4 linked regions of the Homo sapiens genome follow. The protein of the gene in region 2 interacts with the protein of the main gene of each other region in a biochemical or structural test. Each region holds a gene or a part of one and is shown on either strand. Other genes may lie near its edges.

Region 1 (3,898 bases), on a different chromosome or scaffold from region 2:
AATTTTTTTATTTTTTGCAGAGACAGGGTCTCACTAAGTTTCCCAGGCTGGTCTCAAACTCCTGGGCTCAAGCGATTCTCCCACCTCAGCCTCTCAAAATGTTAGGATTACAGGCATGAGCCACTACACCTGGCCACAGGTGTTCTTCTTGGTTGAGGTCAGCTCAAGGATTGTTGGGGGCAGAGTGAAGAGACTGTTGTGGAGTTAACCCTAAAGAAGACCACCATGTACAGCTGTACAAGATGTGCACTGCACAAAGGCATCAGGTTAAGGAGGCAATTGGGAGCTGACACTAAGCCTGTACACTACTTACACAGCCATGGGATTGTGGTTTGGGGAAACTTTGTATACATTAAGTGCTGTGGTGGCCCTGCCCTACAGCTCTCCTAACCTCTACCTCCCAAAGCTCCATTAAGTCCAGAGATGCAGTCCCATAAGAAACTCTAGGGTGCAGTCCACCTTTGTTATTTTCTCCTTTTTATGTACTCCAACTCCTTCCCATACAAGCACCAGGGAGATTTGTCATCAGAAAAATCACATTTTATTGATCACTTTTATTTAAAATTACAAAAATATAAATAAAAATAGTGAAATATAAATATTCAGTGTACAGGAGTGGTCCTCACCCCACCCAGTGAGGATTGGATGAACTAGGCTAAAAGGAAGGGATAACTGGCCAAGAAAGGGACATCTATGTGAAAGTGAAACTGAGACAGTGCTGGTCACAGGTCATGCTGCAGAATAATACATTCCCAGGCACTGTCACGTGGGGGACCCAAGAGGCCCCAGGAGTGACCTATAACCTCTCCAGAAAGACCACTCTGTGTGGCATCACAGTCCACACAGTTTAAGGAAATATTTAGACTTAACAATCAGACACCAGCTCTTACTCACACTTACACTCACAGCCCACACACAAGTGTGCAAACATACACACACATATATATTTCCTGATACATTCATGGAATATCAGAGCCCTGCCCTGAAGTCGTTAGTGTCTCTGCTCCCCAAACCGCTGCTCCCACATTGGCTAAGCTCCCTCAAGAGACCTCAGCTGTTACACTTCCTAATTGGGAAATTATTCATTTCTCAACCATGGGCCTCACAAATGCCCACCGTCGGGGGAGCTGGCTCTCCCTTCACCCATGCACAGGAGATGCCCTGCCCTTTTTAACTCCTGCAGGCTTCAGTCCAGAAAAAGACAAGTTGCTGGTCAGTAACATGTTGAGTCAGGACCACCCCTCCATCCTGGCCAGAGGGGTCTGGGCAGCCAGCACCCAGGCCTATGCCTGAGGGTAAAGCTATTGTCGTTCGCCCTGGTGGGTGGCACAGGCAAATCCATCTGTGCAGAGCCTATCTTCCCAGTCTCTTCTTACAGCTGATGGAGATGACTCTACTGCAAAAATGACAACCAGCAAGAAAGCGGGTGGTGCCCGTTTCCTCCCTGGGGACCCTCAGAGGGCCAGGCCATTCTCTTCCTTGGTGTGACTGCGGATCCAGGGTAAGAAGTGTGAGACTCTCGTGTAGACGCCTGGCTTGTCCTTCAGGGCACATCCACGGCCCCAGCTCACAATTCCAGTCAAAGTCATGCGGCCTTGGAGGGAACAGACGAGGGGTCCCCCTGAGTCTCCCTGTGACGCCAAAGATACAAAAGATGAGCCCTAGAGAAGTGAGGAGGGGATTTCTGATCCCATCACCCAACCATACCAGAGAGAGGGAAGAGTTTCCCAGTCAAAGTCCTTAGCGACTTCCCATTTTCTTTCTTTTTTTCGGGGGGAGGACAGAATCTCGCTCTGTCGCCCAGGCTGGCGTGCAATGACGTGATCTCAGCTCACTGCAAACTTGCCTCCTGTGCTCAAGCGATTCCCATGTCTCAGCCTCCTGATTAGCTGGGATTACAGGCAGGCACCACCACACCTGGCTAATTTTTTTTTGCATTTTTAGTAGACACAGGGTTTCACCATGTTGGCCAGGCCGGTCTCAAACTCCTGGCCTCAAGTGATCCATCCACCTCGGCCTCCCAAAGTGCTGGGATTACAGGCATGAGCCACTGTGCCTGACGCAGCCCCATTTTCTACCACATCAAGTTTAAAATCCCCTGCTTGGCTTTAAAAGCCCTGTCATCTGCCACTATTCCATCCACACTCCCAGACCCTAGTTCTCCTCCCCACCCGGAATATGCCAGCCTCCTTCTCAGTTTTGTATCTTTCAACTGAAACACCTTCCTTTCTTCCCTCTGCCTCTTCAAATGCCTATCAAGTCACATTTCCTTTAAAGCCTCCCCTCCCTGACCCTCAGGTTGGCACTCACCTCCCTCTCCTGAACACCTGATCATTTATAGTTCACAACACACCCTGGGCACTGAGTTACATTGTCTTTTACTGTTTCCTCTTTCTAGGATCTCGTGCCCCCAGTCTGAAGTGACTAGCGCAGAGCTGGGATTTTTTTGGTAATGTCTGGCAAACACATAAGGACTGGTTTAAACCCTCAAAGACCTGAGCTCCTGATTCTGGCTACTTAGGGCTTTGGCTAGAGAGAGACACCCTTAAGCTGGCTGGAACAAGCCCAGGAGCTCTGGGGAGATATGGAAGAGGTGGAGAGAGATGCTTGGAACACTCACCTGGCAGGAATCTGTTTTCCACTGTGGGTCAGCAGCACACAGCATTTTGGTGGTGACTTCAGAGCCGTAGTAGTGGGGCTGCTGACACTCCCGGTGGGAAATCAGCTTCACAACAGTCATTTTCAGCTGCTCCGGATAGAGATAGTCGGCTAGGTGGAGAAAACAGGGAGGCGTTTGCATCAAGATTTATCTGTCCACTGGGAGTCTGCCAGAGAGGGGAACCATAAAGTATCTCTACCAGGGAAGGCCCTTATTCTCTTCCATGCAAATCTGAGCCTTTACTCCACCTATAGCCCCTACCATCTATTTACCTTTGCAGCCCATCGCTCCCTAAACAACACTCTTCATCCATCCCTGGACCCATCTGCCACCGCCTCAGTGCTCCCACCTCTAACTCTGCAGTCTTCCCTTGATCACGCTGGGCTCATTTTCAGGTCAAAACACTCCTCAGGACCTTCTAAGTCAGTCGCAATTGTCACTTACTAGAATTCTCTTTTCCAAAGCCAGTGATCTCACAGCTTGTGCCAAACTGGGGATCGTTATACATCGAGGGCAGGCAGATGGTCTGTATAGTCCGGGATGGCTGCGCACACCTGCCCTCCTTGGAACGGATCTTCAGCAAGGCTGGGGGAGGACAGAGGGTCAGAGGAGAAAGATCACTACTGGTTAGGCGGTCCCCATCTGTCCCCTCCAAGTGCCGAGGAAGTAGCTATGCCTATCCCTAGGTCAGTCATCCAGGGAGGTCTGCTGGTCGCTTATCACCTGGAAACCTCCCCTGCCCCATGCCCCAAGGGCTTTGTTCCAGGTGTTGAAAAAGGCTTGGATGGCCAGAGCCACTGCATACAGCTGTACAGGTCGTTTCTGCAAAAACTCCCAGCTGAGGTAGTTAGGCTGGAATCCATCCCAAGGCTCCATTCTCCAAGTTCTATATCCTAGCACAGACAGAGGCTGCATCCCACAAAGGAAGGTGTGTCTTTTTCTAATTCATATAAACAGGGCCTTCCCAGCCCAAGCCATATACCCACAGGGCTGTTTCCACTCGCAAGAGGCTACTTGTTGGGGAAATTCAGGGTCTCTCCAGAGGAGCACCAGGCCCCTCAGACTTCATGGAACTCTTCCCTGCCACTCCCTTTGTCATGTATATCGAGGCTTCAAGGTCCCTCGCCCCACCCCTGCCCCACCGGGCAGCTTCAACCTCAGCTCCAGTCTCTCCCTGGGTCCCACTCTCCCCAAGCCATTATGGCCACAGTAGTCGCGGGGTTCCCCCTCACCAATGTC
Region 2 (7,035 bases):
AAATTGCTGCTTGTTTCCTAATCTGTGGGTAGAGGATTAGGCTATGTTTGGGGGTTGGTCTATGTTAAGGATGGCAGCAGGAAGTAACTAGAAGTAGAGGAACTACTTGTAGTTTTTAGCCCAAGGAGAAGTGGCACTGGCCAGCACTAGGGGGCAATATAGAGCTATTTTCTTGCACATGCTCAGGTTGATTTTTATACGTAAATGTTTCAAGATTTGAGGGTAACAGGTGGGTGCTGAAGAAGATTCCCCTGGAATGTAACCAGATTTGTTAGAGCTACTACCATTACCGTTACTACTACTACTTCTACTTCTTCTTCTTTTTGTCTTTCAAATTTTCCATTATGTGGGTAATCTTTTGCCCACATACTGAATTATGATTGAATTTTGATTGCCCTGTTGCTGTCTCAATTTTGACAGTTGTACAGTCCTGTAAATACGAACCCTCCTTGAGGATACCACGTAGAAGATCCCATTGGCCCAGTTTGTGCATTGCATCGTTTTGTGACAGGTCTTCTCTAACTCTGAAATGTCCAAATTGATATATTATGACTGTAGCAGCTCATTCTTGTCTCCAAGGACCCCTCCTCATGATACTCTCTTTTCTTGAGTATTCTAAAGTCCCTAATGGTGATTACTCAATCAGGTACCTCGGGCTGCTCAGTTTTAATATTAACTTGGTATTTCAAGAGGAGGTAGAATTGGAAATTGATTGCTGTAGCCAATGCTGCATACATGGATTTAGACTGGATCATGTGGACATGGTTCAGAATTAGCTTTGAAGGGTTAGTGTCATTTACACTATTGTTAGGTATCTGGTTTTTGACCTACCATTGGATTGCAATTCTTGCCACTTTTACTGTACAAAGTTTTATCCTCTAATATTATAAGTTGACTTCATATACTATACTTAATTTTTAACCTTACTTCTGACCCTGTCTCACTTATGAAAACAAGAGTCTTCAGATTTAACTTGAGGAAAGAGATTAAAAGATAACATTGACTTGCTTGGAGGGTGTCTGGCCTGTATACTTGTTGTATGACCATGGTGAAAAATACTCATATTTTGTGCACACTGGTTTTAGATGAGAATGCCTATTGTGGAATGATTAAGTTCTGGGACGGTGCTTCTGAGTTGTAGCAGAAAGAATCATACACCCAGGAACAAAACAAAACCTACTTTGTCTGTTGCATACAGCACAAAGAGATGTCAATGACAAAGTTGTTGGTGGAGGAATGCCTCTTCTACCTGTGTTGTTGGTGAGTGATTTTTAGTTTACTCATAGATTAAGAGCATGCGTATCATTTTTTTCTCATTTTCTTTAGCCATTCTGAATTTTGATTTGGAATATGCCGCTCTTCGCTACGGTTGGTCTTATTAACATCAGTTATTGTATGTGTTCTTTTTCTCAAGGGCTTTTGTGGCATGTGGGGCAATTTACTTTGGTCTGCTGGTCGTGCCCTTTTGCCGGTATCTTGTGTTTATGGATTTTCCATCTCTTTTTATCAGTGCCAGCTTTCTCTTCCTACTGTCAATGCTCCTGTATCTAACAAAATTTAAATTAAAAATGGAAAATTAAAAAAGGTGCCCAGTCCCCTCGCCATCATTTTTAGGTGGCAGCTTCAAATCTCTGTTTTATCAAAAACAGATAACCACAATATTTAGAACAGTGTCCAAGAGTAAATAGGCTCTAACTGCAGACTAAAGGGACTTTCCTGTAAGTTTCCCTGTAAGTTTTATTGCGTGACCTTTTTGACATTTATTTTTGTTGTTTAAAGGCTTTTTTACAAAAAAAAAAAAAAAGAAAAAACTTCCTCCTGGTTCTCTGCTGTTTGAAATAGTTGAGGAAGTTGAACAAGTACAGTGCCATTATGTAATGATGAATTTTGTCTTTTCACAGTAGGTGATTAAAAAGCTCTATTATGTGGTAATTTTTCTTCCATATCAATTTTAATCATAGATATTGGATGGATGATATACTTTGCTTTTACCACTGAAAGGTGTTTAGAAAGTACAGAGGTTTGTAGGAAGCCTCAGGGACTAATATATCGTTTGTTAAATAGTTGTAAATAGAGGATGGGATTGGACATTAAACTTCCCTCAGTGCTGCCATCTCTTCTACGACCTCTAGTTCTGTCTCAGGCACGGAAGCCTTAGCTTTGTCTACTTGTATTTCACCCTTCCTGAAACTTATTTCTTAAATATCTTCTGTATATTAGCTTCCACTTCATGTTTTTTTCAAGCTTTAGACTGATAAGGTTCTAAGTTTTATCTATAAACTTTTGCACCCTTTGTGGAAACAAAATTCTAATGATAAAGTGATATGTTGAATAAGTAATAACAAATTAAGACATTCATAAATTTCATAGTAAAAAAAAAAAGTTTCCAAGACTGATGATATTTTCCCCGTAGGTTTCTGTTTGTATCAACCAAAATGGTAGAAGTCATAAAGTCCCTTCATTTACTTACTCTGATTTTCATGTTTCTAATTTGGAAGCATTATACGTAATCAGAATATATAACTCTGTGTAACTCTATGTAATCTCTATATAACTCATTTATTAAGCAATCTCTGTTGCTTCTTGATCTTTTGGGTAAGATCAGTTGTAAACAATCTGTATGTTGTATTATTTTTCACCACCACTGCCTCCAACTATGATTTTATTTTTCAAATCTCCCATTTTTTAAATCTCCTAAGGAGACATCTAATATTTGATAATCATTTAGTATGCACCAGTGTTAGTTCCATACTGATTACCAAAATGTTGAAATGTTGAAATATTTCCAATGAGTTGGGAAGAGACTAGTGCAACTCCTCTAAGACAAATGGACCAACACGTGATGAAGCAGAAATTCCAATGCCTGGTACTGCTTAAGGCCTCTGAGATACTTCTGCAACCCTGCTGGCCTCTGTCCTGATCGATCAGTGTTCCTGCCGTACTGATTGTTAAGCATTTTGACACTTTTAGCTGTGGACAATTTTAGTTCATATTGGGGTTAAAATTTCTATCTTTTTTCCTCTCTGCTTGGCAGCTCAGGCCTGACCCATGACTTGAAGGACCTGGAGTAAGAAGGGGTATGGCTTCTTTCAAGCTCCCTTCCTGCAGCTCTTTTGGCTTTAGCTCCTCAAGGGTTATGGCTGGGGGAGTGATGAGATGGTGGACATGGCACACTCAGCATACAATTGCAACTTCCAGTCATTTGCCCCTGCCTCTCTGGCTAACACTAACCAGCTGCTCTTGCATGGATAACACCTTCCCTTCATCTAGATTAAATGATTCACTTCCTCAGAGAGGTCTTTTTTCTGACCACTAAGTCTAAATTAACCACCCCTCACTGTCTTGTCAAGGTTAATTAATTAATTATGTAGTACTTAATACTCCTTGATATTCTTGTTTATTAATTAATTAATTTATTATCTACCAACATCCCTCACCCCCACCATAAAATCTAAGTTGTTGAGAGCGTGGACCTTGTTTGAATCGCTTCCTGTAGGAACTCCAGCACCTGAGACAGGTATGGCAGAGTGTGCCCGATGAGTATCTGTTGAAAGGTTCTGGAGGTAGTTAGTATCTTATTAAAGAAAGACTATGCTGTTAACTCTAACAACAGGCCATCTTTTAAGATATCTTTTTGGTCTTGGAGCTTGCACACTACTTGACTTCTTAAATAGGAAGATAGCTTGTTCATGTATTGGTAGTGATGGTTGTGCCAATCAGAGTACCACGTTTTACTCTTGATAAAGATTATGTTACCAAGTGAGCAGGTACCAGGCAAATGGATAGGTTTCCTAGAACTGGTTACTCTTTTAAGTGTCATTGCTGTGCATAGCCTTACATTTTCTGAAGATGGGGACTGTCATGTGATGCAGACCAAGGACTCTTGAAAATGTTGCATAGATGACAAGCCTCCAAAATCTGTGTACTTTCTATATTTTACCTGTGGCTCAAGGATAACTTGCACAGGCTAGAACTCAGCAACATGTGTGGTATGAGGAATGTTAGAGTTGGAAAGACCCCAGGAACTTATCCTCACTGATGTGCAGATTGAGGCCTAGAGAGCAGAAGTTGACTTGACTTTGTCAAGGCCACTAGACAGCCACTATTAAACTGCTAATGTGGTGATACATTTTTCCTTATGTGAGAACCAATTAGGAAAATGGAATCCTGGTTTCAAAATTCACATACTTTTTATAAAAGCATTTCTTTATTATGTTAGTGGATTGCATGGTTTTCAGATTGGGAGATGAGGTAAGAATCTGTTGCTTCGGAAATATTTACGGGAACAGTAAGGGAAACAATCTCATAATAATCACATTAGTCAAATGGAATGGTATATATATATCACTATATATATACTGTATATATATGTACTATATATACAGTATATATAGTATCACTATATATATACTGTTATATATATATCACTATATATATATATAGTGATAACTTCTGTTTCTGTAGGCATCTGACAAATTGGCAAATAACTGGAAATACTACCTTTATAATGGTTACCATTATGTTAGAACTGTACTTTAAGCAAGTATATAGATGAAGGATGTTTATTTTAATATTTTGGCTTATTCAGTGATGGTGATGAATAATATGGCTGACATTGGCATGCTTGGTTCCACAAGGAAACTTTCTGGTAATAATTTTAACATTTCATTTAACAGTACATCTCAATGATAAAAGTACCATAAAAATGAATAAATAAGCATGTTTAGTGAACGCTAGAAAGTATAACCTATTATTTTTGAAATATATTCAGTGAGTGACCTTAACTTTTATTTACACTATATTCTATGGGATATTCTATTCAGAAGTTCAAGTTTTTTTTTTTTTTTTTGGTCAAGACCGTCAGAAAATAAATTCATAGCTATAAACTTGAATGGCTTGCCTAAAATATTATTAATTTACCTTTTTAAACTTTGGTTTGCAAAGTTCCCAAATCTGAAAACAAAGGGAGCTAAAAATTATAAAGGGGAACTATAATAACTACGTTTATAATTAAAGCCAAGTTGTTATAAGTGATACTTTTGGTAGCATTCGCTAATTTTGCCTTTTACCTCATGGGAATGCATTTTAAATTTAGTTTTGTTAATTTTATTTGTCATCAGATTTCTCGTTAGAATTCATGTGCCACCTTCAAGCCACTTTTTATCATCCCCTAGTGACTGAGTAGGCTCCTCCCTGGACGGTTATTTGCCCTGTTTCCACACCAGACTATCTTTGCCAGGCTGGCTTCACTAAATTTGCTCTCTTGCTATTCCACTTAATTCCTCTTTTATTTTCAGACTGTGATTTTTTTTTTGTACTTAGCTTTTTCCCTTTTGTATTTGTTTTGTTTTGTTTTATTTTTGAGACATGGTTTCACTGTCACCCAGGCTGGAGTGCAGTGGTATGATCACAGCTCACTGCAGCCTTAACTTCCCCAGGCTCAGGTGATGTTCCCTTTTCAGCCTTCCAAGTAGCTGGGATTACAGGTGTGTGCCACCACTCCCTGCTAATATTTGTATTTATTTTTAGAGATGGGGGTCTTACTATGTTGCCCAGGCTGGTCTTGAACTCCTAGGCTCAAGTGATCCTTCCACCTCGGCCTCCCAATGTGCTGGGATTACAGAGGTGAGCCACTGTGCCCAGCCGGCTTTTTTTCTTTAGACTAGTAGTTGGGTTGTTTCTTAGTCCACTGAGGTATGTATTGGGTTGTTGCTGGGGTTTGTGGGGCAGAGGCAAAGTAGAGGTCTGATTCCTTAAAGGAAATCAACATTCTCAAACAGAACAAGGCATTTTAATGGTAAGTGCAAGGATGTGGATTTACATTTCTACTATATACACTATGTGCTGATAAACCAGCATGATCTGCCAGGAAGGACCTGGGAGCAGCAGGATTTAGATGCATTTTAGAGGGTAGTTGGATGGGTCTAAAGGGCTCTGAGTAAGCTTCTAGTTTTGCATTGCTTAATAATGACTCTCCAGGAGTGACTCTTAGGTGCCACATGTGTCCTCAATGTTTGCAGATAGTATGCAGTGTATAAACTCTCCGTGAGGTATTAGGAAAAACACCAGGGCTTCACTGGCTAAGTAGCTTAGCTAAGGTCCCACAGCTGGTAGATGTTTGGACCTTGGTCTGACTCCAAGCCAGGACTCAGAGCCACGTGCCTCTTCCTTCATAAGTTAAATGGTCTAATGTTTTATTAGAACATTGTTTTCATTCAGCAAATATGTATGAGCATCTGCTCTTTGCTAAGCTTTGCCCTAGGTGCCGCATATGCAGAGAAGAAGATGCAGACCTGCCTTTGAGAAACTCGGTCAGAGGATGGCAGATCCTTCCTTTTACTTCATGGTCTATTAGTTTTGTGCTCAAAGTGCTATGGGAACACAGTGCTTTATTTCACTTCAAAAATCCTCTATTGATTTACTAAGTGGTTGGTTTTGTCTGGAAGGGAAGTTGAAGGAGAAAAGTTCCCACAGAGGAGGTGATGTGTTTTGAAGCGGGTCTGAGAGGGAGAAAAAGAGGGAAGGATCCTAGGCTGAGGGAACAGCCTGAAGAAAAGAATAGAGGCATGAAGAGGCATATATCATGGGCGAGAGACAAGAAGCATCGAGAATGTTGAGAGTGAGGAGAGGCTAGAAAAAGTGGAAAGATGTCCTAGACCTATGCATTCAAAGGCCCTGATGCTGTGTGTACTTCCTGCAGGGTTGACAGTTAACAAACAGAACAAAAAGAAAAGTCTTCATGTCTAAGATTCCATCAAAACCCTTTCTATTCAGTTCCTTTCTCAGCAGGCAGGCAGTGACAGATTTCTGCTTTGGTGTGTGCAGATAACTACTTGTTGCTGGAATGTTTTTCAGTCATCAGGCATGTTTGGAAGTTGTGAACAGGTTAGAAGGGCAGGCTGCGCAGCCTCAGTTCCACTCTCCTGAGCTGAGCCTGTGTCCACACTACTCTATATTGCCTTCTTTATGTAAACAAAGAGCTATTTTCACACTTCATTCACAAAACGGATGGCGTGCAGAATGAGGCTGGGTGAA
Region 3 (7,035 bases), on a different chromosome or scaffold from region 2:
CTGGGGTGGGGGTTATTTCTCGGACTGTGTCTGCCAGTGTCCTGAGGATCTGATGATGGGCTTGGGAAGGAGGAGGGTATGAGCCGTGGAGTGCTGCCTGTTTTCATTTATTTCCCCCATTTTTCCATTTTTTTCTCCCGACCTGAAACTGACAAAGCATACCTCTATACATAAATACCATAAATGGAAGGGATTTTCAAGATTATCTAGATCTGCGAGTCCTCATTTAGACCAGACCATGGGGGATGGGGAGGATATTGTAGAGTGACTGTAAAGTCTTCAGAGTCACAGGCATCACCCGTGGACCTGGGTGCTGAATGCATATAGCTGGTGCGTGTTTATATATATCATATATAAATTTAATATATGTGTATTACATATATATATACACACACCCACACACATATTTATGTATTTATTTTGAGGCAGGATCTCACTGTCACCCAGGCTGGAGTGCAGTGGCACAATCATTGCTCACTGTGGCCTCAACCTCCTGGGCTCAAGCGATCCTCCCACCTGAGCCTCCCAAGCAGCTGGGACCATAGGCACAAGCCACCACACCTGACTAATTTTTGTATTTTTTGTAGAGATGGAGTCTCACTTTGTTGCCCAGGCTGGTCTCAAACTCCTGGGCTCAAGCAGTTCTCCCGCCTCAGCCTCCCAAAGTGCTGGGATTATAGACACGAGCCACTGCACCTGGCCCTATATATATTTAGAACTTAAAAAAAATCTTTCATAGTGCTGTGATAAATGTGATAAGTAACGTAATGATTTGTATAAGCACCACTGAATTCATAGTACCTTTCTGTAACTTAGCATTTCATTTTTTTCTTTTTTTTGAAACAGTTTTTTGTTCTATCACCCAGGCTGGAGTGCAGTGGCATGATCTCGGCTCACTGCAACCTCCATCTCCCAGGTTCAAGCAATTCTCCTGCCTCAGCCTCCTGAGTAGCTGGGATTACAGGTGCCTGCCACCGTATCCGGCTAATTTTTGTATTTTTAGTAGAGACAGGGTTTCACCATGTTGGCCAGGCTGGTCTCAAACTCCTGACCTCAGGTGAGCCGCCCGCCTCAGCCTCCCAGAGTGCTGGGTTTATAGGCATAAGCCACTGTGCCTGGTCTTGTAACTTAATATATATTTTTTCAATCTTGGAAGTTTTTTTTTTTTTTTTTTTGCATTAAAAAGTTTGAGAGGGAGCGAAAGAGAGACAAAGCCCCATTCACCCATTAATCAAAAAAGGGAGAATCTCCATTCATTCTCAAAAGGACTGAAAACCACTGATTCAGCCCCATCCTCTCCTCCATAGAGGAGGAAATTGAGGGTCAGAGTGTGAGGAGATCAGCTCCAGGTCAGACAAATAGCCAGTCAGAGGCCAAGCCCAGGCACAGACCTAAGTCCTGTCTTTCTTCCCTCTGCAACCAAAATGACTCACTCCTGGCCTCCCCCTTTCTCCCCTCAGGTGCAGGAGGGCTATCGGCCTGTCCTCCTGGACTTTCCTCCCCCAGGGACATTCAGGGAAAGGCGGGGTGGCTGCCACTTACCCTCAGAGCAGGCAGGGGTGCTGCAGAACTCTGAGCTGTACTTCCCCGCCTTAAAGACGTAGCACCAGGGCTTTGAGTCTCGATCTGGGTTTCTGAAAAATCAGCCAAGGGAAGGGCCAGGGTAGGTCAAAGGTGAAGCCTCTCCTTTAGGACCCAAGGACTTTGGTATCCTTTTCTGGAGGAATGGGGGGTGCTTTTTTTTTTGACAGAGTCTCGCTGTTTATCCCAGGCTGGAGTGCAGCGGCGCATCTCCTCTCACTGCAACCTCCGTTTCCTGGATTTGGGCAATTCTTCAGCCTCAGCTTCCCGAGTAGCTGGGATTACAGGTGCCTGCCACCATGCCTGGCTAATTTTTGTATTTTTAGTAGAGACAGGGTTTCACCATGTTGGCCAGGCTGGTCTTGAACTCCTGACCTCAGGTGATCCACCTGCCTTGGCTTCCCAAAGTGCTGGGATTACAGGCGTGAGCCACCACGCCCAGCCGGGAGTGCGTTTTTGGTTGTACACTGGTAGTTCTATCATGTTAGGCAGGAGTATGATTTTGTTCCTGTGTTTACTTGGAGGTGAAGGATGGTTTAAGGAGATGCACATGGGTGCCAAATTGACAAGGTGTGGACTGGAATAGTCTTATATGTCAACTTGGCCAGGCTGTGGCACCCAGTCAGTTAACCAAACATTCATCTAGGAGTTGTGAAAGTGTTTTATAGATGTGGTTAATATCTACAGCCAGTTGACTTTAGAAAAGGAAATTGTCCTAGATAATGTAGTTGGGCCTCGTCCAATCACTTAAAGGCCTTAAGAGCAAATATGAGGTTTCCTGAATAAGAAATTCTGCCTTAAGAGAGCAGCCTCAGCTTCTGCCTGCACTTCCAGCCTGGCTTACCAAGATGTTTCGGACTTGCCAGCCCCCACGATCCTGTCAGCCAGTTCCTTAACATAAATGTCTATCTATCTAGTGTGAAAGGAAAATAAATCTCAGGACCCCAACGTCATGAGCCAAGGGAAATGTCAAGCCGGGAACTACGTCAGGCAAACCTGCCTCTCATTTATTCCTCAATAAGATAGCTGCAAAGTTTTTTTTTTTTTTTTTTAATTCTCTACAAGGACATTCCTTGCAGGCCTAAAGATCTTTACCCTAAAACAGTTCTGTTGACTTTCACCTTGGCATTGTAAATGGATAGCTTATCTTCCCAGGTGCAGGACAGAAAATCATCCCTCTGCTCATCTGAGACAAATGCGTATCTGATTGCTTCCTCTGCCCTATTTTTTATGTAAAAATGCAGATGAACTGAGCCAGACTCAATTGTGTGTTCAGTGAAAAGCTGATCAAGGACTCAGAATACAGCCTTTTGTCTCTTATCTACCTATGGCCTGGAAGCCCTTGCTTCGAGTTATCCCAACTTTCCCGACCAAACCGATGTACATCTCACACATGTTGATTGATGTCTCATGACTCCCTAAAACGTCTAAAGGCAAGCTGTGCCCTGACAACCTTGGGCACATGTCCTCAGGACCTCCTGAGGCTGTGTCACGGGGGTGTCCTTAACCTTGGCAAAATCAACTTTCTAAATCGATTGAGACCTGTCTCAGATACTTTGGGTTCACACACATTCTCTCTCTCTCTCTATTTCTCTCTCCTCTTTCTCTATCTCTATCTCTCTATCATCTATCAATCTGTCTATCATCTATCTATCTATCATCTATCATCTTACATCTACTATCACCTATGTATCTATCATCTATCAATCTTCTATCATCTATCAATCTATCTATCACCTATCATCTATCATCTATCATCTATTTATCATTATCATCTATGTATCATCTATTTAATCATCTATCAATCATCTATCATCTGTCAATCTGTCTATCATCTATGTGTCTATCATCTATGTATCTATCATCTATCTTTCTAATCATCTGTCTATCATCTACCACCTATCATCTATCATCTATCCATCTATCATCTATCTACCATCTATCATCTATGTATCTATCATCTATTTATCTATCAATCATCTATCAATCTATCATCTATCTATCACCTATCATCTGTCTATCTGTCATCCATCTACCGTCTATTTATCATCTATCTATCATGTATGTATCATCTATTTATCTAATCTATCACCTATCATCTATCATCTATCAATCTATCATCTATCACCTATCATCTATTATCTGTCTATCATCTATCCATCTATCCATCCTGTATTGGTTATGTTTCTTGGGAGAACCCTGACGGATCTGACAGAATCTTTCCCCAGCTGTAGCAGCTTCTCACAGGGGGAATCCCTCCTTGGGGATGTGCCCTCACCTGCAGTAGTTGTGGTTCCCCAGGCCCAGCCTGATGGCGTCTGGCCTCCGCCCGCTGTAGGGCTTCTGGGCCAACGCGCTGCTGTTCCAGTTGGTGCACTCGGCGCCACTCTCCGCTGTGCTCCACGTGCCCCTGTAGCTGATGCCCTGGTCCTCGTAGCACGTGGCCCTGGTATCTGACAGAGAGCAGGGCATGGATGCCTCACATGGGAGTCCCCTTTCATTCAGCCCTCAGGAGGCTCCCCTCTCTGCCCCGTCCTCCCCCAGGCCTGATGCAGGCTGGCTCGGAAGCCACAGGCTGGGTGGCAAGGGTGCCAGCCTGGATTCAGGGTCACACCTAGGCTCTGCTTGCTGTGTGGCACTGTGCTTCCTGACCCATGGCAGAAGCGCCTTCCCTGTCCCTGGCCCCCACCCCTGGCCCTGCCATCGCACCCTGCCTTTCCTTCCGGGGGCGGGGGAGACTGGAGAGGTGGGATTTCAGCTCGTTTCACGTGCTCTCACCTACTCACCTATTTCACAGCACTTCCCAGCAAATCCTTCGGGGCACTGGCACACGAAATCTGAGAAGTACAGGGCCTGCTGGCAGGTGCCCCCGTTGAAACACCTTGGCTCGCTGCAACCTGTCAAGTATAAAAAAGGAAGCCCCTAATGACAGCCTCCTTCTGTGTGCTCAGGCCATGGTTCCAGGAGCCCTGTCTACCACAATCCACACACACTCAAGTCCTGCAGCGTGGAACACGCGTATACCAGTTCTGCATCCTACAAATACTGTTTTCATCCTGCCTTTGGTTGAAAAAAATCCATACATAAGTGGACCCTGCAGGTCAGACAAGTGTTGTTCAAGGGTCCCCTGTATTTTCAAAGCAGCTCCAAGGATGATGTGAGTTAAAATATTAAGAATGTGCTCTATGTGCCAGGCGCTGTTGTACAGTCTACAAAAATTAGCTAATTTAATCCTCACAGCAAACCATGAAGTGTGTACTGTTATTCCCACCTCTTTATAGATGAGGAAACTGAGGCAAGCGGGCATTTGCCCAAGGTCACTTGGTCTTGCTCCCTTTTCTGCTTGTACCTTCACCTCCGCCTAAGGCCGAACAGGCCTGGAGGCTCCTTTTGAAGATTTGAACTTTCCGGGGACCATGAAAGACAGGGTTCATGACTGGACCCCTGAACTCGAAGTCTCAGTTTGAAGTCGATTTGTACTGGGCTTTTCTGTGTTTTTGTTTTTGTTTGTGTTGTTTTGTTTTGTTTTAGAGGTGAGGGCTTGCCCTGTCACTGAGGTTGAAATGCAGTGGCACAATCGTAGATTACTGCAGCCTCCAACTCCTGGGCTCAAGTGATCCTTCTGCCTCAACCTCCCAAGTAGTTGGGACTACATACCAGGTCTGGCTAATTTTTTTATTTTTTGTAGAGACAGGGGACTTGCTATGTTTGCCCAGATTGGTCTTGAACTCCCGGGCTCCAGCGACCCTCCCACCTTGGCCTCCTAAAGTGCTGGGATCACAGGCATGCACCACCTCCCAGCCTCAGTACATACTTTTGACAGGCACTGAGTGGCACTGTGCCCTGCCACTGTTGCACCAGCAATATTCCACCCGGTTGCTTCTGAGCACAGGGCGCAGCCATGACTGATGTTGCTGGTATATCATCTGCGTTTTTTCATCTCTGCAGATCACTATGAGAAAAGACAGGCCAGCCTCATCAGAGTATGACTCAAAATGAAATGCCTCACTACCCTTGCACCTACTGAGAAAACTCCCTCACTTGCTTTCTATAGACTCCATTGCATACTCCCTTATTGAAGAGACACAACTGGAAGACAACAAGATAATGAATACTGGCCAAACACGGTGACTGATGCTGGTAATCCCAGCACTTTGGGTGGCCGAGGTGGGTGAATCACTTGAGCTCAGGAGTTCGAGACCAGCCTGGCCAACATGGTGAAACCCTATCTCTACTAAAAATACAAAAATGAGCCAGGCATGGTGGCAGGTGCCTGTAATCCCAGCTACTCAGGAGGCTGAGGCAGGAGTATTGCTTGAACCCAGGAAGTGGGGGTTGCAGTGAGCCGAGATTGTACCACTGCACTCCAGCCTGGGCGACAGAGCAAGACTCCATCTCAAAATAAAATAAAATAAATTTGCATTTCTTTTCTGAGTGCCATTGAGTATCTTCTCATATGATTTATTTATTTATTATTTATTTATTATTATTATTTTTGAAACAAAGTCTCACTCTGTCGCCCAGGCTGGAGTGAAGTGGCACAATCTCGGCTCACTGCAACCTCCACCTCCTGGGTTCAAGTGATTCTCCTGCCTCAGCCTCCCGAGTAGCTGGGATTACAGGTGCCCGATACCATGCCCGGCTAATTTTTGTATTTTTGGTAGGGACGGGGTTTCACCATATTGGACAGGCTGGTCTCGAACTCCTGATCTCAAGTGATCCACCCACCTCGGTCTCCCAAAGTGCTGGGGTTACAGGCATGAGCCACCGTGCCCAGCCTAATTTTTTCTTTTCTTTTCTTTTTCTTTTTTTTTTTCGAGGGTCTCTGTCACCCAGGCTGGAGTCCAATGGTGCTGTCTTGGCTCACTGCAACCTCTGCCTCCCAGGCTCAAGCAGTCCTCCTGCGTCAACCTCCCAAGTAGCTGGGACTACAGGTGCACACCACCACACCCAGCTAATTTTTAAATTTTTTTGTAGAGGCGGGGTGGGGTGGGGGAGGCAGAGGTGTCTCACTATGTTGCCCATGCTGGTCTTGAACTCCTGGGCTAAAGCCATCCTCCTGGATCCGCCTCCTAAAGTGCTGGAGTTACAGATGTGAGCCATTGCACCTGGACTTTTTCTCATTGTAATTCACCAAAAAATATATATATGCATAACTGTCTACCAGAGTTTTTTATCCACATAAGTATTACCACACAGAAATGATGCATTTTTGGCCCCAAAGAAAATTGACATTTTAGACTTTGCAGAAAATGTGCTACTTCTCCAAGTATTTTTGGCATAATGAAAATAGTTGAAGTACTCCCATTAATATTTTCATGCCATCTTTCTGTTTTCAAGCCAGAATGCCAACTTAAAAAACAACAACTTTACTTTCAATTAATTAAAGAAGTAGCACGTGCCCACTGTAAGTCAGACCCTTGCTGCTTCTGAGGTCACTGAGGCCAGGATAAC
Region 4 (7,035 bases), on a different chromosome or scaffold from region 2:
CTGTTGCCTAGGCTGGAGTGTAGTGGCATGATCTTGGCTCACCACAACCTCCGCCTCCCAGACTCAAGCGATCCTCCCACCTCAGCCGCCCCCAAGTAGCTGGGAGTGCAGGTGCATGCCACCATGCTCAGCTAATTTTTGTATTTTTAGTAGAAATGGGGTTTCACCATGTTGGTCAGGCTGGTCTCGAACTCCTGACCTCAGGTGATCTGCCTGCTTCGGCTTCCCAAAGTGCTGGGATTATAGGCATGAGCCACCGCGCCAGGCCCCCTTCTGGCCTTTCTTACAGCCACCTCCCCACGGAATCGCACGCCAAGGCCAAAGCTCAGTTTTCCAACCTAGGCTATGCCCAATCTCGCTTCACTGTAATCTGTTGCCACCAGAAAATGACTTCCCAAAAGCTGTTTTTGTGAGATCCTTTGCGTCCCATTCCACAGCCTAAAAGAATTCCCAAGAGTTGCCAGGTGAGGTCTTGTGACCCACCCAGGCCTTCTGCGTTCACTGTTAATCGACCTGACCTTTCTAACAGTTTCCCAGCCTGCTCACATCCAGCCACGTACTCAACCCCCATCAACTCATTCACTCAACAATCTCTGGGCATCTGTGATGCGATCTATGACCCAGCCTTCAGGTTCACAGTGTACATGTGGAGAGATATGAAAACCACCAATTACAGCGTGACAAGAAGGGTCCCACAGAGGACTGGGTAGAAAGCTGTGGGAGAGGATGGGCTGGGAGTCCGGAAACGAAGTGAGTTATGAACCAAGCCTCGACATCACGTAGGCCTGGCCACCTATGGCCTGAAGGGGTGGAGAATGCCGCATGTTTAAAGAGAACAAAGGTGGCCGGGCGTGGTGGCTCACACCTTATAATCCCAGCACTTTGGGAGGCCAAGGCAGGCAGATCACCCGTGGTCAGGAGTTCAAGACCAGCCTGGCTAACATGGTGAAACCCCGTTTCTACTAAAAGTACAAAAAATTAGCCGGGCACGGTGGCGCATGCCTGTAATTCCAGCTACTCGGGAGGGTGAGGCAGGAGAATTGCTTGAACCCGGGAGGCGGAGGTTGCAGTGAGCTGAGATCGCGCCATTGCACTCCAGCCTGGGCAACAAAAGTGAAACTCGGTCTCAAAAAAAAAGAAAAAAGAGCAAAGGCACATTTAGGAAACCCTCACACTGAGCATGGGGAAGGCATGAGGACTGCACTGGAGACTGAGACTGCACGGACGGGCAGGGGCCAGATAACGTGGCCGTGTCGGTCGTGAAGGAGTTCCTGCTTTATACTGCAAGCCGTGGCAGGCGCTGAAGCAAGAGATTGGGGTGATCAGATTTGGGGAAGGCCCCTCTGGGCTCGAGTGGTGCAGACCAGAGTCCTGAGAGGGAAGGAAGTAGATGGGGAGGGTGCTGCAGCTGCCCAGGCTACAGTGAGCTAGGACGAGCAAGGTGGTGGCAGTGCAGATAGAAGAGAGTAGAGATGTTTCAGGAACACCCAGGAGGCGAGCATGTAGCTGAAAGGGTCTCATGGGACGGGGGAGAGGGGAGAGCCATCCTTGTCCCTCTAGCTCAATTCCCCGTGACCCCAACACTCAGCATGGACACCCCCATCCAGCTCTTTGCCCTGTGCCTGCGGGTTTCCACCTCCCTCCTCCAAGCCCGCCCTGTTCACCTGGCGACCTCAGCTCAAGACCCCGCTTTCATGAAGCCCTGTCTGCAAACCCAGCCAATCGGTAAGTCTGACAGTATTTGATTCTATCAGCAGACTCAGCCTCTAACGTTTAAGGCATGCACGTCTACCAGCAGCTGAGAGACTGATTGTGAAGATGCAGCCACTGATATCCCCCATGGTGACCCCAGGGGCTGGAGTGCAGTTGGGAATCGCTAGTGCTCAGGTAGAACTTCTGATGTCCCAAGCACAATTCTCGATGCTGACACAGTAAGTTGTTTTATCCCTGAAACAGTCCTGTGAGGTAGGGTCGCGCTTTTTAAGATGAGGACTCAAGCACAGAGAGGGCAACTTGCCGAAGATCATATAGCTAACACGCTGTAGACCACAACTGCAACCTAGGCAGCCTGTGCATTTAACCGCAACGTGATGCCGCCTCCCGGCAGTGCCCAATGAATGCATGATGACTTAGCCATGTGCTCAGGGTCCCTTGACACCATGCCCCTGCACATCTCACACCTCCCTGCCTCTGCACACGACACTCCCTTTGTCTGGAAGGTCTGAGCCACCTGGTCCAGCTGACAGACACCCTCACCTTCAACCCTCAGTTCAGACACCCATGTTGAGTGTTCCCAACAGTCACCCCCCGAGTCCCTCAGGCATATGGGTTTAGAATTCTAAACTCCACATGCTGGGCCCAAGGGAGCCTGGACACAGCCCTGCCACAGCACTTACTGCACATGTGTGTCATGTCTTGTCCCTACCCTTACAAGTCTGTGACCCACAATCTGCAGGGACCAAGTCCTATTCATGTTGGTCTCTCTAGTGTCAATAGTAACCAGGGGTGTTGAAGATTAATTGCACTACTCGTTGGCAGAAGCATGACTGATGATCAACACACGATGAAGGAGAAGGAAATGAGAAAGAAAGCAACGAAGCAAAGGAAAAGAGGAAGCAGTGCAGGATGGCAGGGCAGTTCTTAGTATGCACCCAGCCATTTCCTAGCTCTACCTGCTAACTGGGCCTGGACATGACACCATGGTGACAATGAACACACTAAGCAACCGGACCTTGGTCTCTAAATACCATTCCCAGTAAAGGACTCCTTGGAGAAATGGCTGGTCCTAGGGCTGGGCTGGGGAAACATAAGATGAGCCTATTGTACCTGGTAGTGCCAGAAAGCAAGGACATGGCTCAAAAAAGGAAAGAATGGGGCATATCAAAGAGGCACAAAAGCCAACCTCAAAGAGAAGTGGTTGGGCCAGGCATGGTGGCTCACATCTGTAATGCCAGCACTTTGGGAGGCCAAGATGGGAGGATCACTTCAGCCTAGGAGGTGGAGGCCAAGCTTAGCAACTTAGCAAGGCTCTGTCTCTACAAAAATTTTAAACTAGCTGGGCATGGTGGCATGTGCCTGTAGTCCCAGCTACTCAGGAGGCTGAAGCAGGAGGATTGCTCAAGCCCAGGAGTTCAAGACTGTAGCAAGCTATGATTTGCACCACTGAACTTCAGCCTGGGTGACACAGTGAGACAAGGGACAGCCTCAGGCTGGACAAAGCCACGTGTCAAGCACCCAGCGAAGCTGGGGACCATGGAACTGGGTCCACTCCCCACAGGCTCTTGCTGTCCATCTCCATCACCCAAGCCCTGTGCATGGGTCTGAGCACACTCCATCTGTGCCTCAGGCCTCCCTCCTGCTGTGGGCCCATCTCTCCTCCCTGCAAAGGGCAGCTGAGGGCTTGGGTCACCTGCTCCTGGAGCTGCCTACCATGGAAAAGCGTGCAGCCAGCAGAAAGCGCATCCCCTTCTTCCGAGGTTGGATTCTCCTGGAAGGCCCATGCCCCTGTGCCTGCCTCTTCAGGGCAAGCCAGGCCCTAACACTCCTTCCTTCAGCCAACAGCCAGACGCCCAGAGAGGCCAGGAGCTAAGACACAAATAGCGCAGCCCGGCATTGTGCCCCTGTTCCTGGGATGCCCATGTGACCCTTCCAGGCCTCTCATCTGTCTGTGTGTCTGAGGCCATGACATGCTGAGCACCTACTATGTGCCAGGCACAGCGCAAAGTGTCTCAAGTACAGCATTGTATTTAATTCTCACAACTCTAAGGGTGGGAGCTGATACTGTCACTATCATTGGTGAAGAACCCAAGGCCTAGGAAGTTTGAATAACCTGCCCAGGGCCACCGGCAAGCCAGAGCTGGAGCATGAATCCAAAGCTCACGTTGGCCAATCCGAGGAGTTGCACAGTGCAGACTCACCGGAGACCACACCTGTGCTCAAGTCTGGCTCTGCCACTTAACAGCTGTGCCACCCCAAGCAAACGTCCCTACTTCTCTGAACCTTACTTTCTGTAGTGAGGATACAATCAAGCTGCCTAACTTGCTAGGGGGTTTTAGGAGAGGCACAGAGACAGCACTTGGCTGCAAGTGGGCACCGAATACAGTGAGTTTTTATTATTACTGTTATTGAGCCCCGTCCTGGGATATCTGCTCATTTGGTTTGGATGCTTGTCCCCTCCAAATCTCATGTTGAAATGGGATCCCCAGTGTTGGAGGTGGGGCGTGGTAGGAGGTGTTTTGGTCACGGTTCCCTCATGAATGTTTTGGTGCCCTTCCCATGGTGATGGGTGAGTTCTGAGTTCACACGAGGCTGGCTGCTTAAGAGTCTAGGACCTCCTCCTGCTCTCTCTTGCTCCTGTTCTCGCCATGTGATGTGCCTTCTCCCCCTTCACCTTCTGCCATGGATGGAAGCTCCCTGAGGCCCTCACCAGAAGCAGAGGCTGGCACCACGCTTCCTATACAGCCTGCAGAACCATGGGCCAAATAAACTCTTTTCTTTATAAATGACCCAGTCTCAGGTATTTCTTTAGAGCAACTCAAGAATGGACTAACACATGTGGCCACCCCTCCAGTGCCCTGCCTCGGTGCCAACCTATCCTGGCATTACTCCCAGATGCAAAGGGCCAGCAAGGAGGCTCCCTGCTGCCCACCCAGAGACCCACCTGAATCCTCTGTCATCGATGTAGCAGTGTGCGGCAGAGACCAGCCAGTTGGGAGAGATGAGGGAAGCACCGCAGATGTGGCCCTGGCCCAGAGCATGCAGGCTTACCTGCCAGGGCCACTCGCCCTCATCCGCATCCGTGCCCCCAACAACACGAGCCTGTCTCGTGAATGACCGCAGCCCACAGTCTGCAGAGGGAGCAGAGAACCAGAGGACAGCAAGTCAAGGTGGGGACATCAAACCACAAGGGGACATGCAGTGTGTGCCAGGAGACCCTGTGTGGGGAAGCCAGCTTTTGGCGTGCACAGCACTGCTGGCGTGGCCAGGGCGTGAGGGACCCCCAAAACTATCTTTGAGCTTCACAGACTCCCTTCCACCATGCCCCTCCTTCTCCCCGCTCCCAAATTCAAACCCTCATCTTCCCACCTCCCCCTCCCTCACAAATGCAGCGAGGGCCTCCGGAGGCTGGCTGGTCAGCTTCACTTTGATTTGGGTGTCATCTGCCTGACTTGACATCATTTGGGACATCACAGGGGAGGGGGCAGCATGGAGCAGGGAGAAGCGCCTTTGAATGCTGAAGGCCACAGCTCTGAGAGGGACGAATGAACCGCTGATGTGAGGTCACAGAACGCTGGAGCTGTGCTCAAATCTAACCTGTGGCCAGCCAACGCTTCTGAAACACAGAGGCTGCAGATTAAAGTATGGGCAGGCAGGGGTGACACCCTGCCTTGGGCTTGGGTGAGCTGGGCCGCTCTTCTCCAGGCTACTGCTCCACAGCTGTGTCTACACAGCAGGGGCCAGCAACGCACTGCAGCCACGACCCCGCCATGCTACAGAGGCGCTGAGATGCTGGCCGTACGGGCCTTTCTCCAAGACCAGAGCCAGCCCGTGGGGTGGTGCCTTCATGCCAACTGGCAAGGCTATCCTTTCCTCCAGGAGACACACCCTCTCACCCAAGCACAGAGCTGCTAAGTGAGGTGCTGGCGGGATTGCACCTCCAGGTGCACCCTCTGGTGGGCACTTCACACAGTGAACAACCTGCACAACCGTACTCGGATGCCCTGCTCACCGCAGTCCTTCTCATCTGAGCCGTCGCTACAGTCCTCCTTCCCGTCACACTCAGGGTTGCCCTTGCTCAAGCAGAGCCCATTGAGGCAGCGGTAGGTGTGTTTGGTACAAGTGACGACGTTCACTGTTCAAGGAGGAGGACAAGGGAGGGGCTCAATTCCTCTGCAGCATCCGACCAGAAGCCAGAAACCACCAATGGCGCCTCATGGCCCCTGCACATTACCCCCTCACCCAGGCCTGCCCCACCCACGCCCACTGGCCTCCCTGCCCTGCTACAGGTTCTCCACCTTCTGGAAAATTCTCCCCCAACCAGAGCCCTTTCTCATCACACTTAACACACAGGTGGTTTGTGTTCATTAAACTCGGGGCGTCCTGCATGTGCGTGTGCTCAGGGCAGCCTCCTCCAGGGGCGAGGCCCCCAACAGGAAGATGGGTGGGGCGGGCCTCACCCTTGGGGCAGGAGGCCTCGTCGGACCCGTCCCCACAGTCGTCCTTCCCATTGCACTGCTGGCTTTTCGAGAGGCACTTCCCATTGGAACACCTGAAGGTCTGGGCCGGACAACCTGGAGAGGCACCAGGACTCAGCCACCAGGAGCCACCGTCAGTCGCCCCGCCCACCTGCCCGCCCAGGCAGCCCCTCCCCAGCACTCACTGCACCCCTGCTCGTCGCTGTTGTCTCCGCAGTCGTTCACACTGTCGCAGACCCAGAAGAGGGGCTTGCAGAACTTGTTCTTGCACGTGAACTGGTGGCCGGCGTCGCAACCTGGAGTGGGGTAAGGGGAGGTCGGCCGTGAGGCCCTCATCACTCACTGCTTCCCCAGGATGCCCAGGCGATCAGAGCTACCTGGGGACCGCTTTCTGATCTACAGAGAGGCCCAAGGGGCCCTGCTCCACCAGCTACCAAGCTGACCTCAGCACTTCCGAGATACCCCACCACCTGCCCCACAGGCCAAGATCTCCATATGGCAGGGTGGGGAGTGGGGCCAGAGGTCTCTACACAGGGCCGAGAGCAAAAACTCCCACCACCTCCGGCCTTTCTGCCTCGGCAGTCAGCCAGCAGGGCCATGGGACGCGGGCAGGGTGGGGAAGGAGGGTGGGGAGACCGGGGCTCCCAGCCTGACTCACTGCAGTTGAGCTCATCGCTGTGGTCGGTGCAGTCGGCCCAGCCATCACAGCGCAGCTCCTTCCGGATACACCGCCCCGTGCGGCACGTGAACTGCCCCGGGCATGCTGCGGGCACAGGCAGGCCTGAGGCCCCCAGCACCCACCCACCTCCCTCCGCTGGCTCCCGGCTCCCTCCCTCGGGCC

What was found.
Region 1: of the proteins of PDGFC (region 2) and PLAU, one has a biochemical effect on the other in vitro, tested with the Homo sapiens proteins (one study listed by BioGRID).
Region 3: of the proteins of PDGFC (region 2) and PLAT, one has a biochemical effect on the other in vitro, tested with the Homo sapiens proteins (one study listed by BioGRID).
Region 4: of the proteins of PDGFC (region 2) and ST14, one has a biochemical effect on the other in vitro, tested with the Homo sapiens proteins (one study listed by BioGRID).

What each region holds. Positions count from the first base shown.
Region 1 is NC_000010.11:73,914,122-73,918,019, reverse strand, and holds the end of PLAU (urokinase-type plasminogen activator isoform 1 preproprotein), read right to left. Parts: coding exon 3,892-3,898; intron 3,245-3,891; coding exon 3,104-3,244; intron 2,770-3,103; coding exon 2,621-2,769; intron 2,450-2,620; exon of another isoform or gene 2,399-2,449; intron 1,632-2,398; coding exon 1,455-1,631; 3' UTR 526-1,454; downstream 1-525. UniProt on the Homo sapiens protein: Specifically cleaves the zymogen plasminogen to form the active enzyme plasmin.
Region 2 is NC_000004.12:156,961,796-156,968,830, reverse strand, and holds part of PDGFC (platelet-derived growth factor C precursor), read left to right. Parts: intron 1-1,085; exon of another isoform or gene 1,086-1,236; coding exon of another isoform or gene 1,237-1,260; intron 1,261-7,035. UniProt on the Homo sapiens protein: Growth factor that plays an essential role in the regulation of embryonic development, cell proliferation, cell migration, survival and chemotaxis. Potent mitogen and chemoattractant for cells of mesenchymal origin.
Region 3 is NC_000008.11:42,183,539-42,190,573, forward strand, and holds part of PLAT (tissue-type plasminogen activator isoform 1 preproprotein), read right to left. Parts: intron 5,534-7,035; coding exon 5,396-5,533; intron 4,479-5,395; coding exon 4,368-4,478; intron 4,035-4,367; coding exon 3,860-4,034; intron 1,635-3,859; coding exon 1,543-1,634; intron 1-1,542. UniProt on the Homo sapiens protein: Converts the abundant, but inactive, zymogen plasminogen to plasmin by hydrolyzing a single Arg-Val bond in plasminogen.
Region 4 is NC_000011.10:130,197,763-130,204,797, reverse strand, and holds part of ST14 (suppressor of tumorigenicity 14 protein), read right to left. Parts: intron 6,958-7,035; coding exon 6,853-6,957; intron 6,491-6,852; coding exon 6,380-6,490; intron 6,291-6,379; coding exon 6,177-6,290; intron 5,852-6,176; coding exon 5,729-5,851; intron 4,848-5,728; coding exon 4,661-4,847; intron 1-4,660. UniProt on the Homo sapiens protein: Exhibits trypsin-like activity as defined by cleavage of synthetic substrates with Arg or Lys as the P1 site. Involved in the terminal differentiation of keratinocytes through prostasin (PRSS8) activation and filaggrin (FLG) processing.